Regions from separate parts of the Homo sapiens genome. Here region 1 is linked to region 2. Evidence: fine-mapped expression QTL. Tissue or cell type: spleen. Region 2 holds a variant in brackets; the other region holds the start of a gene. All regions are shown on one strand. Distances are between the middles of the regions.

Region 1 (8,000 bases), 490 kb before region 2:
GCTAGTGTCCTGTGGTCCCCATCCCGTGCTCGCCAGCTGAGTGCTGTTCGCCTGAGGCAGTTCCACTGTGAGCCCACTCAGGCTGCAGAGACTGGGGTCCCAGTGCCAAGAGGCTGGGAATTGGGTGTCATCCAGGGGGAGTGTAAGGGGGGCAGCAATGGTCAGTGCACTCCCCTGGCACCCCCACTGTGCAGAGGCATGTGGCCCAGGACCGTGTGGTTGTGGGGTGGGAGAGGGCAAGTTGTCCAGAACTGGGGGCAGCCGAGCTTGGAAGTCTGGCCCCGCCCTCCCAGCTGGGAGAATCTGGGCGAGAGCCTTTGCCTCTGCACTTGCCACCCCACCCTGCGAGCACTGCGGTAGTGGTTTCCCCAAAGGGGTCCTGAGGGTTCTGGGCCCAGAACTTGGGGTGGGTACAGGGCTGTGGCCACGTGGGGCTGACGGATTCTGGCCCCGGTGCAGATGCTGAGCACCTGAAGACCCTGTCCCTGTCCTACAACGCCCTGGGAGCCCCTGCCCTGGCCAGGACCCTGCAGAGCCTGCCCGCCGGCACCCTCCTGCACTTAGAGCTCAGCTCCGTGGCAGCCGGCAAGGGTGATTCGGACCTCATGGAGCCTGTATTCCGATACCTGGCCAAGGTACGAGGTGGGGAAGAACCCAGAAAATACTGAGCCTCAGAGGCCAAAGGTCCCAGGGTTGCTGGGAGGAGCTCGCCTCTCCCCAGATTCGGGCTGAACTCGCTGAGGGGCTCTACAGAGAGAGTTAGAGGTTTGGAGGTTTAGAAAAAACAGCTGGGGGGCCAGGCGCGGTGGCTCACGCCTGTAATCCCAGTACTTTGGGAGGCCGAAGGGGGTGGATCACAAGGTCAGGAGTTCAAAAGCAGCCTGGCCAACATGGTGAAACCTTGTCTCTAGTAAAAATACAAAAATTACCCAGGCGTGGTGGCGGGTACCTGTAATCCCAGCTACTCGGGATGCTGAGGCAGAGAATTGGTTGAACCCGGGAGGCAGAGGTTGCAGTGAGCCTAGATTGCACCATTGCACCCAGCCTGGGTGACAGAGCGAGATTCCGTCTCAAAAAAAAAAAAAAAGAAAGAAAAAGAAAAAAACAGGCTGGGCGTGGTAGCTTACGCCTGTAATCCCAGCACTTTGGGAGGCCGAGGCGGGCGGATCACGAGGTCAGGAGATCAAGACCATCCTGGCTAACATGGTGAAACACCATCTCTACTAAAAAATACAAAAAATTAGCCGGGCGTGGTGACGGGCTCCTGGAGTCCCAGCTACTTGGGAGACAGGCAGGAGAACAGCGTGAACCCGGGAGGCGGAGCTTGCAGTGAGCCGAGATGGCGCCACCGCACTCCACCCTGGGCGACAGAGCGAGACTCTGTCTCAAAAAAAAAACAAAAAAAGAAAAAAACAGCTGGGGGAATGCTTTTGTACAGCTGCCTGTCTCAGGCTGTGAATTCCTGCCCACCAGATAGGACCCGGGACTCAGGGTGATCTTGCCCCCCGCCAGGAAGGTCCCAAGGGGCACACTAGGGCCCCTGATGCTCTCTCCTGGGGGGTCTTCCAGGCACAACTGGGACCCTATTATTTTCACACTATCACGTGCAGAGTGTGACCCACATCAGGAGAGGTGTTTCCTTCCGATCTCCAACTTGATGGGGGACTCTGCTCCCTTCTGGGCCCCTGGGTGTGGTGCACCTGCTGGGAAGCAGGCAGGGCAGGTGCGCCACTCCGTTTGGCCCCCTTGGGCCTCTGCTCATGTCCAGGAAGGCTGTGCTCTAGCCCACCTGACCCTGTCTGCAAACCACCTGGGGGACAAGGCTGTTAGAGACCTGTGCAGGTAACGCCCTTTCCCTGCTGCCTGCTGACCTGGGGGTCTGATCTCATGGCTCTGGACCCTATGGGAGAAGGGCCACAGAAATGGTACCAGCTCCTCCTCCCCAGCACATCCCAAGACCTGGCTCCTTCGGTTTCCACCAGCCTCTCAGGCTGCCCTGGAAGGCAGACTACCCTCTGGCTTCTTTCTTAGCATGGGCCTGTGGCTCTTGAGAGCACTCCTCCGGGGGTGTCCTTGTCATTCCTGTGCCTCGGCCCACATGAGGGCACTGCTCTTATGACCTGGAGCCTCAGTCAGCTCTCTGGGGAGTGTTGAGAGGAGCCCAAGCTGGGCCAGGCACACCCAGAGCTGGCCACTGTGGCCCTGACCCCTGGGAAGGACCCCCAACCCTAGAGGGCCACCTGCTACTGGGCCAGGCTGAGGCAGAGCCCCTGGGTCTGGCCCGAGGCTCCCTGAGCTGGCATTTGTCTGGGCAGCTTTCCTAGTGTTGGGGCACAGCCTCTCTGGAAGCCAACCTTTGCACTTCTTCCCATGTTATCTCAGATGTCTCTCTCTGTGCCCCTCACTCATCTCACTGGATCTGTCTGCCAACCCTGAGATCAGCTGTGCCAGCTTGGAAGAGCTCCTGTCCACCCTCCAAAAGCGGCCCCAAGGCCTTAGCTTCCTTGGCCTGTCAGGTGAGTGCTGGTATGGTGGCCACGCCTGCCATGTTCGGCCTTTTCAGGGACCTGCCTGAGACCCAGGTGCCTCCTCCTAAGGGGCTGTCACTGCTACCAGCCAGGCAGCAAGGCTGGGCTCCATGAGGCTGGGGCAGCAGGGGGCAGAGTGACAGTGACAGAAAAGGGGCATGATCCCAGCTCCTAAAACCATGGGTTAGGGGGCGAGGTGGGTATCTGCCTCTGGTCTCTCCAACCCAACCTTCAGAGCAGACTATGGTAGGCAAGACCCTGTTCCACAGGGACTTTCTTCTTGTCCCTGGCAGGAAAAGGGATCCCAAGGTCAGGGTGTTGAAAGCTGCCAAGGGACCCTCCTACTTCCTGGCAGGGGCTCCTCTGACACAACCCTGCCCAGGGCTGTGGTCTGATTTAGCTTGTTCTCTCTTGAGCCACATCAGGGCAGTCCCCAACCTGAGCTGTCTGGAAGACAACCCCAGGAAGGGCTTTGATGACCTGGCTTGCCCCACTGGGGCCGGGGCAGGCTGTGCCCTCCAGGGGATGAGGGCTTAAGTGAATGTGCACGAAGCGGGGCTCTGCTTTCTTCCTGTGCCCCCTCCCCTTCACCTCCCAGGGCCAGGCCGCCTTTTCCAGGAAGGCCCCCGAGTGCTGGTGTGAGACCCCTTCCCCACACCTCAGTTCCTGGCATCTGTACCTTCCCACCCAGCTCCCTGAATTCCTGAGCTTAGTGTTCTCTTGATCCACTCAGGCCCACGATGTACAGATTTGCAAGCAGATCCATTATGTCCTTCTTATGGGTGGGGAGACTGACGTGTAGGCATGGACTTTGAGATCGGGCACTGTCAGAGGTAAAGAAGGGAGCCACCCTTCCTCCTGTCTGACCGCTGGCTGTGCAGATGATCCCACCCCTTCCTGGAGAGTCATGGGGCCTCTCCGGAGCTCTGCCCACTGCCCCTCGCTACAGCCCTGGGGCCCTCAGCGAAAGCGAGTTTGTTCCCTGGAGCCTGCCGCGGGCACCAGGACGCCGCCGGCCCCCGCAGCGCTGAGGTCTGCCCTCTTCCCCTCCGCAGGCTGCGCCGTCCAGGGTCCCCTGGGCCTGGGCCTGTGGGACAAGATAGCCGCGCAGCTCCGGGAACTGCAGCTGTGCAGCAGACGCCTCTGCGCTGAGGACAGGGACGCCCTGCGCCAGCTGCAGCCCAGTCGGCCGGGCCCCGGCGAGTGCACGCTGGACCACGGCTCCAAGCTCTTCTTTCGGCGCCTCTGACCCTGGCGCTGCCTTTCCCCACCCTCACCGAAGCCCCTAATAAATGAAGCTGCTGGCCGGGCGCGGTGGCTCACGCCTGTAATCCCAACACTTTGGGAGGCCCAGGCGGGCGGATCACGAGGTCAGGAGATCGAGACCATCCTGGCTAACATGGTGAAACCCCGTCTCTACTAAAAATACCAAAAATTAGCCGGGCGTGGTGGTGGAAGCCTGTAGTCCCAGCTACTCCGGAGGCTGAGGCAGGAGAATGGCGTGAACCCGGGAGGCGGAGCTTGCAGTGAGCCGAGATCGCACCACTGCACTCCAGCCTGGGCGACAGACCGAGACTCCGTCTCAAAAAAAAAAAAAAATAAAATAAATGAAGCTGCTGCCTCCCTCCCCGTGGCTGCCTGGCAGGCGGGTGGGCGGGGTAAGACCGGGCTTCGAGTCTGCTGCGCCGGTTACGTCCCGGGGGCTGCGCGGCTGGAGGGAATGTCCCGAAGTCCGGGCGGGCGCGGGCGCAGGCGTGAGGGCTGAGCGCCGAGCTGCCGATGGGGACGGAGGGGCGGGGGGTCGCCCCGACGCGCGCAGGCGCAGACATGAGGGGCGAATGCCGAGTCGCTGACCGAGCGCACCCCGCCCCCGGCGCCATCTTCCCGACCGCGAGCCGTCCAGGTACCCGGGGCCCGGCCGGTGGGCGGGGAAGGGGCAGAGTGGGGAGAGGCGACTCAGGGCCTGGCACCCTCTGGGCGCGCCTAGGCCCCGGCACAGCTTCGGCTGAGCGCCGCAAAAGTCACGTTATTGGCATGTTCTAGAAACTGGCTTTCCTTGCTCGTTGTCCACTCTGCGAGGTTGTTTTGCACATTTGCTTGTGGCCGCAGAACGTCCGCTTTCGCTGTTAGGCAGAAGCTCCTGCGTGGTTGGGGCGGTTGGCTCCTCGGCGCTCTCCTGCCTGGCGGCTCCGTGACGGCTGCCGAGCAGCCTCGGTCCCCACCCCGCGGCTCGCAATGGCCTCGACCCTCGGAGAGCTTGACCCAGACGTTCCCTACCTACATGAGCGGCGACGCCCTTTCCCGGCTCTTCCTCGGCTGGGGCGCCCCAGGGCTTCGGCGCGGGCGGCCTTCCCTCACTTCTGCTCTTCTCCCATCCCCGGTAGCACCGTCCACTCCCAGTTAGCCGGCTCAGCGCTGCTCTCCCGGGCCTCTCCACCGAGAGCTTCCTGCGCCTGCCCGCCAGGCCCGCTCCTCCTCCCCTCTCCGTCTGAGTTTATCTTACTGCCCGGCCCATTGGGCCAAAAACAGGGGTGTCGTTCGTAACTCCTTTATTTTAATCCTATCTCAAATCCCTCGGCGGATCTGACGGCTCCACTTTCAAAGAGAGAACGTCTGGAGCTGGCCCAGCTTCCGTGCTAGGCAGGACCCTCCCACGGGCCCCGCTCCCATTGTTTCTCCACAGCTCGCTGCCCAACTAGGGGCACCTCTCCATCTTCATTCCCTAGGACCCCCTCTTTCGAGAAGCTGCACCTTCAGCTTGTTGGTTCCTCCAAGTTCATGCCTACTTAAAGGCGGGCTGTTAAGTGTGTTGTTTCCTGTGCCCCAAACTCTCCTCGTGGGCCATCAAACAGCTGCCTGCCGCCCTCATAACCTCCCTCAACCTCCAGCTTGAACCACACTCCACTGCAGCCCCCGCCCCGCTCTCCTGAGTGTCCATAGTACCTCACTTTTTCTGGTAGCCCCTATAGCACCCTGTGTGTTCACCATTATTGAGCTTAGGAGAGCTCTTCATGGAGCCCTGGGTCTCCAGGACCTGGCACTTACGGGCTGTCTTTTTTTGTCGGTTTTTTTTGTTGTTCGTTTGTTTGTTTTGAGACAGGGTCTTGCTCTGTCTCCCAGGCTGGAGTGCAGTGGCTCGGTCTTGGCTCATTGAAACCTTCACCTCCTGGGTTCAAGCGATTCTCCTGCCTCAGCCTCCTGAGTAGCTGGGATTACAACCGTATGCCACAACGTCCGGCTAATTTTGTAATTTTAGTAGAGACAGGGTTTCACCATGTTGGCCAGGCTGGTCTCAAACTCCTGACCTCAGGTGATCCGCTCACCTCGGCCTCCCAAAGTGCTGGGATTACAGGTGTGAGCCAGCGCCTGGCTTAGGGGCCATCTTTGAGTCGGCCCTGGCTCTGCTCCCCAGGTCTCAGTGCTGTGCCCCCCCCAGAGCCTAGAGGATGTTTCATGGGATCCCAGCCACGCCGGGCATAGGAGGTGAGTGTGGCTGGAAGGGCGCAGGCTTTCAGCCGCTTCTGCAGGGGCTGACGGGCAGTATTGGGTATTGGGGATCGGGGGTGGGGAGGTATCTGACCCTGCTCTCGTACAGCCTTGGGGGTGGCCAGGGGCTAAATAGTTCATTGCAGGAGCACTGAGGGCTCAGAAACCTCCAGACAGAACTGGCTTGGTCCTGCTGGGCAGAGATGATGAGCTTCGGTGTGGCCAGAACGGTGGGGGTCCTGGGCACCCTGTGTCACCAATCCCAGGGGAGAGGCTGTGTGTGGTGAGCCTTGTTGGCACTGCATCATGAGCCACGAGCAGGGCGTGGCCACTGTTGTGCAGGTGACTCCGCCAGGGAGCCATGGTGGAGCTGGGGAGCTGGGCCTGTCATGCGGTCCCCCGGGGAGCCGCAGTGGAGCTGGGGAGCTGGGCCTGTCATGCGGTCCCCCGGGGAGCCGCAGTGGAGCTGGGGAGCTGGGCCTGTCATGCGGCCCCCGGCTTCTCAGAGGTGTTATCATCAGGTCCCCCCACACACTGATAGGGGTGAGGTTGGAACCTCTGTGCTCCAGCTCCCTCTGGGCTCTTTGGGACCCAGCCTGGGAGGCCTCAGGGAGGAACTGAAATGGAGACTGGGACTGGAGTCTGCCCTTGGGTTCCCTTTGGGGCCAGCCTGCCAGCTCTCTGCCTTCTCTTGCAGCCCCTGGGAACAAGCCGGAGCTGTATGAGGTGAGTGGTGGGTGCCCACCCGGCCGGCATTGGCCAACAGCAAATGCCTGTGTGGCCTCACCAGGGTCCTGCAGCCCCTGTTGGCACTGGCCCACAGAGCCCGCTCTCTCCGGCAGGAAGTGAAGTTGTACAAGAACGCCCGGGAGAGGGAGAAGTAAGTCCAGGCGCCCAGGCTGTCCCAACACACCCATGCGCATCTGGCTGCCCTGGGGCAGCCCCTCCAGACCCACCCCAAACTGAGGGGTGGGAGGACGCAGGGTCAGTCTGGGGAACTGTTCCTGAGGCACTCCAGGATGGAGCAAGAGGTGGGCAGAGCGCCCGCAGTGGCACCTCCGGGCAGGGGGTAGCACTCTGGGCTCTAGGCTTGGCACCCCGGGGCCTGGCCCGATAGACAGGTGTGTCCTCAGGTACGACAACATGGCAGAGCTGTTTGCGGTGGTGAAGACAATGCAAGCCCTGGAGAAGGCCTACATCAAGGACTGTGTCTCCCCCAGCGAGTAAGAGCCCACGTCCTGGGAGGTCTGTTCCTGCCCTGGGGGGCTTGGGTGCTCCATAGGCAGCAAGAGCAGGCGTCTGTCAGGCTGGGAGGCACCCACTTGTGTGGGGCCCACCCAGCGTGAGGAGGGTGCCCCTGGGTCTCAGCCAGGGAAGTCCTGGGGGCTGGTGAGGGAGGCGGGCAGAGGCGCAGCTCCTGGGGTGTCATCCGGCCCACTCCCCCACCCTCATCCCCCAGCACAGGCAACCTTAAAAAACGGTCGAGAGGCTTGGGGATGTCCCAGGATCTTTTGGGGGGGCTTTGTTCAATGAAGTGACAAGACCGTCACAGGCCACCGCACAGGACCATGAGCTGTGGATGCGGCCATCACAACAGAGGGCTGGTCGCTGTGGTTCAGAGGGTGGGCAGGGGTTGGGGGCCGGGGTCTCCACCTGGAGCCGAGCTACAAGCCCCACTACGTGCTCAGGGCCTCACCCCCAAAAGCTACTAGCAGCCCCTCCTCCTTGCTCGGCCTGCCTTTGCCTGTCGCCTGGTCCTCTCTGGAAGCTGCTTTGCCTCTGGACCAGCCGAGGGGGTAGGATGAGCTGGGTGGGGCTGGTCCCATGCTTGGGCAGCAGCTGACCTCTCCCTAGGTACACTGCAGCCTGCTCCCGGCTCCTGGTCCAATACAAAGCTGCCTTCAGGCAGGTCCAGGGCTCAGAAATCAGCTCTATTGACGAATTCTGCCGCAAGTTCCGCGTGAGTGCCTGGTCCTTCCACCCCCA
Region 2 (8,000 bases):
CTGTGTTGAGTGACCTGCGCAGGGCCCTCTGGGAGAATGGGCGGCCTCTTCTCTTGGCCCCTGTGGCCTTTCCAAGAGCACCCCCTGGCTTGGCAGGGCAGGTGGGTGGGGACTGCACCGCCTCCTGCAGGGACGTGAGCCCGCACCTCCCGCGCCCTGCTCTATTATATTAGAACCCCCTGTGGGAGCTGGGGGACCGAGGTGTCGGGTGGCACCGTCCAGCCAGACCTGACTGCAGCGGGGCCTGGGTGCCCTGGCGCCGTGCGTCATGTTCCAAGTCTGGGTGGTGACGGTCCTTGCGCGCCCTCCTCGGATATTTATATCCCCTGGGCCCCTGCCCACTGCTCCCCTCCCCCACAAGCTGCTGCTGACAGCAGCACGGCCGTGCCCTCCTCCCACCCGACGCTGCCGCCAGTGGCTTGTGCCTCCTCCGAGGGGCCTGTGACCTCCCACACCCCTGGCCCGCTCCGTCTGCCCCGTGGGCTCCTGCCACCGTCCCCGATGAAGATCGTGCCCGGTAGGTGGGCAGCCCTTGAAAGCCTTGTGAAATCCTGGCCCCTTGCTGGGGACAGGGGCCAGAGGGCTGGGGCTGAGGCTGGAGGCCAGGGGCGCTGTCCCTCGCCCTGCACACAGCCTGCCTCATGTGCCCTCACCCAGACCCCCTCAGCCCTGGTCTGCAGTCTCACTTTTGGGGTGTTGGGGCTGGTGAGGAGGGCGAAGTTGAAGGAGTGCAGTGGGTTCAGCTGCAGGCTTGAGGTGGGGGCTCTGGCATCCCTCCATGCCTGCCAGCTGTCCCCAGAGGGCAGCCTTGGAGGCAGAGTGGGCTGCTCGGGCCCCTCTTCTGGTGGGGACAGCAGGGGGAGGCTGGGAGGGAGGGAGGGTGTGTGCCGAGGCCGCGGGCAGTGCTGGGGGGCTGCGGCTTGGCCAGGCGTGCGGCTGGCCCCTCCTCCCGGCGGGTGTGGCCGCGGGGACGCAGGGGTTAAGGCCAACTAACCTTGAGCGTCAGTAGCCCTGCGCAGGGACAGCTGAGCCGGCCGGGTGGGGAGCGAGGGTGGGGAGGCGCCGAGGGCCGGACCCGCGGAGGGAGGAGGAGAGGAGGCGGGCGGGAGCTGTTGTGGGGCTGCCGCCGCGTATGGGGCGGTCCTGCGGGCAGGGCAGGCTCCGGTCCCGGCGCTCCCCCTCGCTCGCCCTGCACGCAGGGAGGGGGCTGTCTAGCCTGGAGCAGCCGGTTCCCAGCGCAGGAAGGGCAGCCCTGGCGGCTCCGCGTGGCGGCTATGGAGCCCTCGGGCAGCCTGTTTCCCTCCCTGGTGGTTGTGGGTCACGTTGTCACCCTGGCCGCTGTGTGGCACTGGCGCAGGGGACGTCGGTGGGCGCAGGACGAGCAAGGTAAGCCCCGCTGGTGGCTGCCAGGGACTCGAGGCGGGGCAGAGGGGCCGCCTGCCTCCCGCCCCTTCATTCCCTGCGCCCTCCCCTTCCTGTTTCCAAGCTGAATGTCAGTGAAAGCAGTGTTGCCCCTCCACCCCACCCTGCAGTGTAGACCCTGACCCTGCTGCAGTCCCAGGGCGGGGCGGGCTCTGCAGTGGCCCTCAGCCTGCAGCCTGTGCGGGACAGGTGGGTGGAAGCGGAGGCCGGCAGGGCAGGAGCGTCCCCCACACGAAGGGAGGCCTGTGGCAGCCGCCGTGGCAGGGACAAGTGGGCAGGTGCCTGTCCGGCCAGCACTGAGGTGGAGGTGGCTCCCTGCACACACAGCAGGGGGTGGAGCCACACGCAGGTGAGGCAGGTGCCCTCATGCCCTCGGGCCGCACAGGGGGCGGGGGCAGCCAGGCTGTGCCCTGCCCTCCCTGCTCAAAGTCACCAGCTCCTGGGCTGTGGTCCCAGGTGGCAACCGTGCCCAGCACAGGATGGGGCGGGGCCCTGGGGATTGGGCAGCCTCAATTATGGGCTTCTGGCCAGAGGGACTGCCTATCGGGGACCTGGCTGGCCAGACCTCTCCTGCAGTGAGGGCGCTGCCTGGCTCAGCTCCTCTGCTGGATCCCCGGACTTGAGATGAGTCAAGATGGGGCTTCTAGGCGTGGCGCTGGGGACGCCCGGAGCTGCCGGGGACTCAGCTGCCAGGATGGGACTTGGGCTGAGGGCTTCTTCCCCATCCATGTTTTTGGCTGGGGACCAGACACTGTCCCTGCCTCCCCACCTCAGCCCACAATTGCCCCCTTCGGCCACGGTCCTGGCTCACAGGATGCCTCTACTCCCTGGTGGTGCCAGACGCGGCTCAGCTCCTCGGTTCTGCCTCCAGCGTTGTCTGCCCACCACCTGGCCCCATGCCCTGCCTTCCTCCCTGGGCCCTGCAGTCCCCACCGCACATCCTGCTGGGAGGCCCCCTCCCATGCCGCTTCAGTCCCAGGGCAGCCTCCCAGCCCGGCCCGTGGGTTGGGGCGCGGCTTCCTGGCTGCGCTGGGCGGGGCTGCGCGCCAGGGGCAGGTTCTTTGGGTCTGGGCCTCGCTCCCGCAGTGGGCGGATTGTGGGGGGGAGGTGGAAGAGGTGGAGAGCGAAGCCGGCAGCCTCGCAGCGTGGGCTGGAAGCAGAGGCGCCGCCGCGGTCCAGCTCCCCGCACTGTCCGTGGGCCGAACCAGGGCTCCGGCCGTGGCCGGCATGTCGGGGGCGGGGGGCGCCTTTGCCTCGCCGAGGGAGGTCTTGCTGGAGCGGCCGTGCTGGCTGGACGGGGGCTGCGAGCCGGCCCGCAGGGGCTACCTCTACCAGCAGCTGTGCTGCGTAGGTGGGTGCAGTGGCGTGGCCGGTGGCACAGAAGGGGCCACCATCGCTCTCACCTAGTGGGGCTGGGTCTCTGCTGGGAACCGCCGCCTGGGCTGGGATGGGGGTGGCGCCTTGGCCCGGTGCAGCCTTGCCCCCGAGCTCCGGAAACACCTGGGGAGGAAGGCGGGGTGATGTTCCCCTACCCCCATTTGTTTGTCTCTAGAGAAGGGGCTGGAGGGGGCGGGGCTGGAGGGGGCGGGGCTGGCCCACCCCCGGCTGTTCCACGTCAGCCTGGGCTTTGGCCTGGGTTTCCAGGACACGGGGGAGGGAGGAGGTGCTGAAGGCGGGGCTCCAGGCCTTCTGTGGACTTGCTGCAGTCCTGGGCCAGTGGGATTCCCTTCCCAGTCTTGGGGTTTCCATCCTAGGACCGTCTCCACTAGCTGCGGGACCTCAGCCATAGGGTCCACACCTGTAAAACGGGGGCGATACTCCTCAGAGGGCCACGGCAGTGCCTGTCGTGAGGGACCCTGGGCTGGCGGCCGAGGGTCAGCAGCCCTGGACAGCACAGGTGTCAGGCAGGTGTGCAGAGGCACCTGAGCTGGGGGTGTTCTGGGTGCGTCCCAGGTGGGAGAGCCAGCTGAGCTGCAGCTGTAGAGGGTGGGTGTAGCCTGGCTGGGTGGGGCGGGTGTGTCTGTTGGTTTTAGGGTCAGAATAGGATTGGATGGGGCGGGGCAGGCTGGGCTGGGAGGGAGGGGAGGTGATGAGGAGGGAAGAGCTCAGAGCAAAGAGGCACCCAGAGGCAGGAAGTAGGGAAGGGGAGCTTGAGCCAGGCTTGGGAGGTGGAGGCCCCTGACCGAGCCCCCAGCCCACCTGGTCCCAGCCCTGCCCCGCCCCAGCCCTTCTCCTCACCCGGTCCCAGCCTTGCCCGAGTCCGTGTCTGGAGTCCCCACCGTGCCCCTTCCCTTCCCTGAGCCCCTGCCCCATTCCTGACCCTGGCCCGGCCCAGGGCGGCATCTTTGGAGGCCTGTTAGTGGCAGGGAGAAGGCTGGAACAGGGGCCTGGCTGGGGTGGGCTCCACGTGGGTCCTGGACCTTGGCCCCGGCTCCCAGTTTCCAGCTGTCGTGGACTCCCTGTGCCCACCTCCCTGGCTGTTCCGGGATCTCACACTGTGCCTCAGCAGAGTGGCAGCCCCGTTCCTGCAGGCAGGAGCCACCTGGTCACGGCCGGGCCCCCAGAGCCCATACCCAGCAGGCGCGGGGCTTGGCCTCAGGGTAGCTGCTGGCCCAGGGCTTCTGAAGAGGCGACAGTGTTTCCAGAGGCTTTGGACCCAGGGAGGGGCGGCAGAGGTGTGGGGTCCGGGGTGCCCTTGGGCACAAGACTGGAGGTGCTGACCAGTGCGGGGTCAGATTTTGATTTGGGGGCTTCTGGTGACTCCTGAGGTTCTGGAGGCTGCTGGGCCGGACAGGCAGAGCAAGAGGGTCACCCTGAATCTCATGCCAGGCTCAGAGACCATGCATGGAGACCAAGGGGTGTCTTCGTTGGGCGGCGTGTACGATGTGGCAGAGCCCTAGGGGCTGGCTGTGCCCCTTGGCGTGGAGTGGGGGCTTCCCCACCTCTGAGGGGTTTGGGCACCCCCCATTGTGAGGGTTCTGG[T/C]GCCCCCTCACGGCCTCAGGGGCAGTAGGAATGAGGTGGGGTGAGCTCTTCCCAGAACTGAGGCCGAGTGCAGCTCCCAGCTGGACCGAATCTGCCTGATGTGCGGCTGGAACATTCTTGTGGTTGGGGCAGCGCATTCTTTCCTATGGTGGTCGGGTGGGCTGGGCAGGCCCAGAAGCTGGCCAGAGGCAGCTCCGCCCCGGACCCCAGGGAGCCGGAGGCCCCAGCCAGCGCAGGCCCTTTGCCCTTTGCCCTTTACAGCATGAGACTGCTTCCCTTGAGCCCCACCCAGCTGCAAACAGCACCCCCCACCCCTGGGGTCGCCCAGGTCCTGCCTCAGGTGTGGCTTCCCCTCTGTGAGTCACAGGCTTGGGCCCCCTCCCCATCCCTGACTCACTGGCGAGGCCCCTCCTGGGGCTTCCCGATGCTCCATTCCCCCATGAGGCCCGGCCTCCGTGAGTCAGCCCTCAGCTACGCGCCTCCGACGTGAGGTGTCTGCCTGGGGCAGGGTGGGCTCCGCAGGTGGGCACTGCTCCAGGATGTGCCAGGTGGGCAGCTTGGGAGGGGCCAGGCCTGGGGTGGGACCCCACTGGCCCCAGGGCCAGGGCAGGCACCATGGGGCAGGGTGTGCTCCCCGCTTCATGCAGGTCTGTGAAGAGGTGTGATTGGGGGGCTGCAAGAGCTGACAGGCAGCAGGTCCCCTCCCCTCGCCAGGTATCAGCGGCTTCTTGAGTCCGCCCTGGCAGGGTGGGTGGGCAGAGGCTGAAGCAGGGCCTGGCCCAGGCCTGGAGGGAGCTCCAAAGAGAGGCGTGGCCTCAGAGCCCCTCCCGTCGGGGGAGCCCTTCAGTCTGTTGGGGGGTCCTTCTGGGTGGCTGTGGGGACGGCCTGTGTTCCTCTGCGGTCCTGGCACCATTTGGTGTGCAGTGAAGTGCCAGCTCCCCGTGTCCCCAGGTCCCCCTAGGGGGCTGCAGTGGTCGGGGTGGGTGAGGAAACCCCGGTTTCCTGTTTCTGGCGGGCCGAGGGCGTGTCTGTGGGGGAGGGGGCTGCTTGCTCCTTCCCGCCGGGACACTCCCCTCCCTGGCGGCGGCCTGGGCAGGGTGGGGCCTCGGGGGCGGGCCGGCCTCGCCGGGGAGTACAGCAGGCAGGGAGTGGCCGCACCGACTGGGGCTCTGAGCTGAGCCTGTGCCGAGTGAGCGTCTCGTGGGGCCGCCAGCCTTCAGCTGCCTGTGTGCCACACGGGGCTGCCCAGAGCACCGTGCCTGAGGCCGAGGGTCCGGGCGACGAAGGTGTGGGGGCAGCATGTCTCAGCACCAGCTCCGCGTGCCGCAGCCCGAGGGCCTGGGCCGAAAGAGAACCAGCTCGGAGGACAACCTGTACCTGGCTGTGCTCAGGGCCTCTGAGGGCAAGAAAGGTAGCAGGGCTCCCCTCGGGCACCCCCGCCAGGCAGGGCGGGCCCCTGCGGGAGGAAGGCCCACTTCCTGTGGCAGGAAAGCCTTGGCACCGCTGGGGGGCTGGTCTTGGAGATGGGGGTCGGGGGCCAGCCATCCCCACCCAACACGGAGTGGGCCGACAGGCGCCCGCGAGGCTGACGGGGGCCTCCGAGCGTCAGATGTCGGGCCTGGAAGGGCGAGGAACTCTGCGCTCTGGGGAAGGTTCGCTGCCCTGTCAGCAGCACACGCGGCTTCCCTTCCAACACCCCAGCGGGCCCGGGCCCTGGCTCTGCCACACCCCTGCTTGGGTCTCAGTCTGTAGAGGCCGGGGGGGACTGCAGGACGGGACTTGTGTGCCCTGGGCTCAGGGTGCGCCCAGGACCCTCCCATTTCCTCGGGGGAAGAGTCCGGGGTGGGGTGGCTGCACCTGGTGGCGCCTGGGCCCCTGGCACCTGGGTCTCTGCTGTGTGGCTGGGCTGCGGGTGAGGGCGCCTGGGTCTCAGTGTGTGATCTGAGGGAGGCTTTGGGGCTCCCCAGGCAGGACCTGGCCAGCCAGGCTGCTGTGTCTGCACGGTGGTCACCTGAGGGCCCCCGGGGCTTCTCCCAGGCCCCAGGTAAGCTGGTCTTGTCTCCCCCAGATGAGCGGGATCGTGTGCAGAAGAAAACCTTCACCAAGTGGGTCAACAAGCACCTCATCAAGGTTGGTGGCGCATGCTGGTGCGTGTCACAGGGGCTGAGGCTGTGGGAGGCGCTGAGGGAGGGTGGCCCCTGCCGCCCAAGGCTGTCCCCATGCTGCCTGTGTGCTCACCTTTCATCTCTGAAACCTGTTATTTTCTGTCCTCTTTCTTCCCTACGCCTGCTCCTGCCTCTCTCTTCCTCCTCTTCCTTCTGGTCTTTCCTGGTCTCTCCTTGCAGCACTGGCGGGCAGAGGTAGGTGCCTCCGTGGGGCAGGGTGTGTTCCGTGGGCTCCCGGGAGACTCAGCCCCCGCCTCCTTCCCTCTGGGACCAGCACCCACTCTGTAGATCAGCCACTCAGGGCCTATTGGTGGCTCTGGGGGACTGGCCACCTCAGCCGCTGCTGTCCCCACAGGCCCAGAGGCACATCAGTGACCTGTATGAAGACCTCCGCGATGGCCACAACCTCATCTCCCTGCTGGAGGTCCTCTCGGGGGACAGCCTGGTACGTGTGCCCCTGCCCCCTCCGGGCCCCGCCTGCCCCACCTGGAGACCTCTGCCTGCCTTCCCTCCTTGGGGCCTCTCCGGCCGCCCACTCTACTTGGAATCCAGCTCAACCCCTCCTGCCTTCTCCCTGGGGGCAGGCTGGCCTCGTCCCTGGCAGCACCTCCCGCCCAGGCTGCTGGGCATCACAGCCGAGGGCCTGGCCTGGGAGTGGCCGCAACCCTCGGACCTCGGCTGCTCTGGGCCTTGCCGCCCTCCGCGTCGGGACACAGTAACCTCATGCTCCGCTTTGCTTTGGTTTCTCTGCTGCTTGGACTCTGAACCTTGACCTCTGCCCTTTACCCTTTGCCCTGCTCTGGCCGGGCAGCCGAGGGAGCGGGACGTAAGCAGGAGCTCACGCCTGGTGAGTGGCTGTGCCTGCCGGCTGCAGCGGCACGGGAGCTCCCCAAGACCGTGGAGCCCGGCTTTCTGGGGGCTGGTGGCCCGTCGGCCAACCCCTGCCTGGCTCTTGGGCGGGTAGGTGGTTGGGTGTCAAGCTGCCCGTCCACCGTGCTGCCCAGAGCTGGCCTGGGACCCACCGGTGGCTGCTGTGGCTGCCACCGCCAGGCAGGAGGACCCCCCCTTTAGTGCCACTGCCCTCCACACGAGGCTTCCTGGCTATTGTCTCCTCCCACCCCTTCCTTCCTTCCCTCAGCCTGGGTCGCTGGACTTCCCGAGCCCTGATGGGCCTGGCCTGGCCCCTGGGCCGGTGGCCTCCCTTTCCCTGCGGGGGAGGGTGAACCTGGGATGAGGGGCTGCTGCCCCCTGGGGAAGACCCTTGGCTCGGTTGCTGCGGCGCTTTGGGGCATGCTGAGGGTGGGGCCCGGGAGCTGCAGCTGCACTGTGGGTGCTGACTGTGCCTCCCCACAGCCCCGGGAGAAGGGGAGGATGCGTTTCCACAAGCTGCAGAATGTCCAGATTGCCCTGGACTACCTCCGGCACCGCCAG

What was found. PIP is the estimated chance that this variant, and not a neighbour inherited with it, causes the effect.
Region 1: VPS28 starts here. The variant in region 2 is fine-mapped to the expression of VPS28 in spleen (GTEx, PIP 0.93).

The regions. Positions count from the first base shown.
Region 1 is chr8:144,424,920-144,432,919 of GRCh38, reverse strand. VPS28 (VPS28 subunit of ESCRT-I) reads left to right here and starts at 4,372. Exons shown (of 10, transcript NM_016208.4): 1 at 4,372-4,431; 2 at 5,941-6,011; 3 at 6,712-6,740; 4 at 6,857-6,894; 5 at 7,148-7,237; 6 at 7,869-7,974. The coding sequence starts at 5,975. It overlaps TONSL (tonsoku like, DNA repair protein), which reads left to right. Exons shown (of 26, transcript NM_013432.5): 23 at 460-635; 24 at 1,769-1,842; 25 at 2,383-2,516; 26 at 3,584-4,145. The coding sequence ends at 3,777. RefSeq lists a silencer at 4,197-4,546 and an enhancer at 6,277-7,040.
Region 2 is chr8:143,937,165-143,945,164 of GRCh38, reverse strand. It overlaps PLEC (plectin), which reads left to right and starts at 5,568. Exons shown (of 32, transcript NM_201384.3): 1 at 5,568-5,815; 2 at 6,473-6,534; 3 at 6,925-7,014; 4 at 7,923-8,000. The coding sequence starts at 5,704. It overlaps LOC124902040 (a long non-coding RNA gene), which reads right to left and starts at 1,301. Exons shown (of 2, transcript XR_007061144.1): 1 at 995-1,301. RefSeq lists silencers at 985-1,254, 2,325-2,784, 3,005-3,094, 5,342-5,571, 5,852-5,951 and enhancers at 1,855-2,104, 4,650-4,944, 5,122-5,181, 5,592-5,831. The variant T/C (reference allele first, on the strand shown) is at 4,405.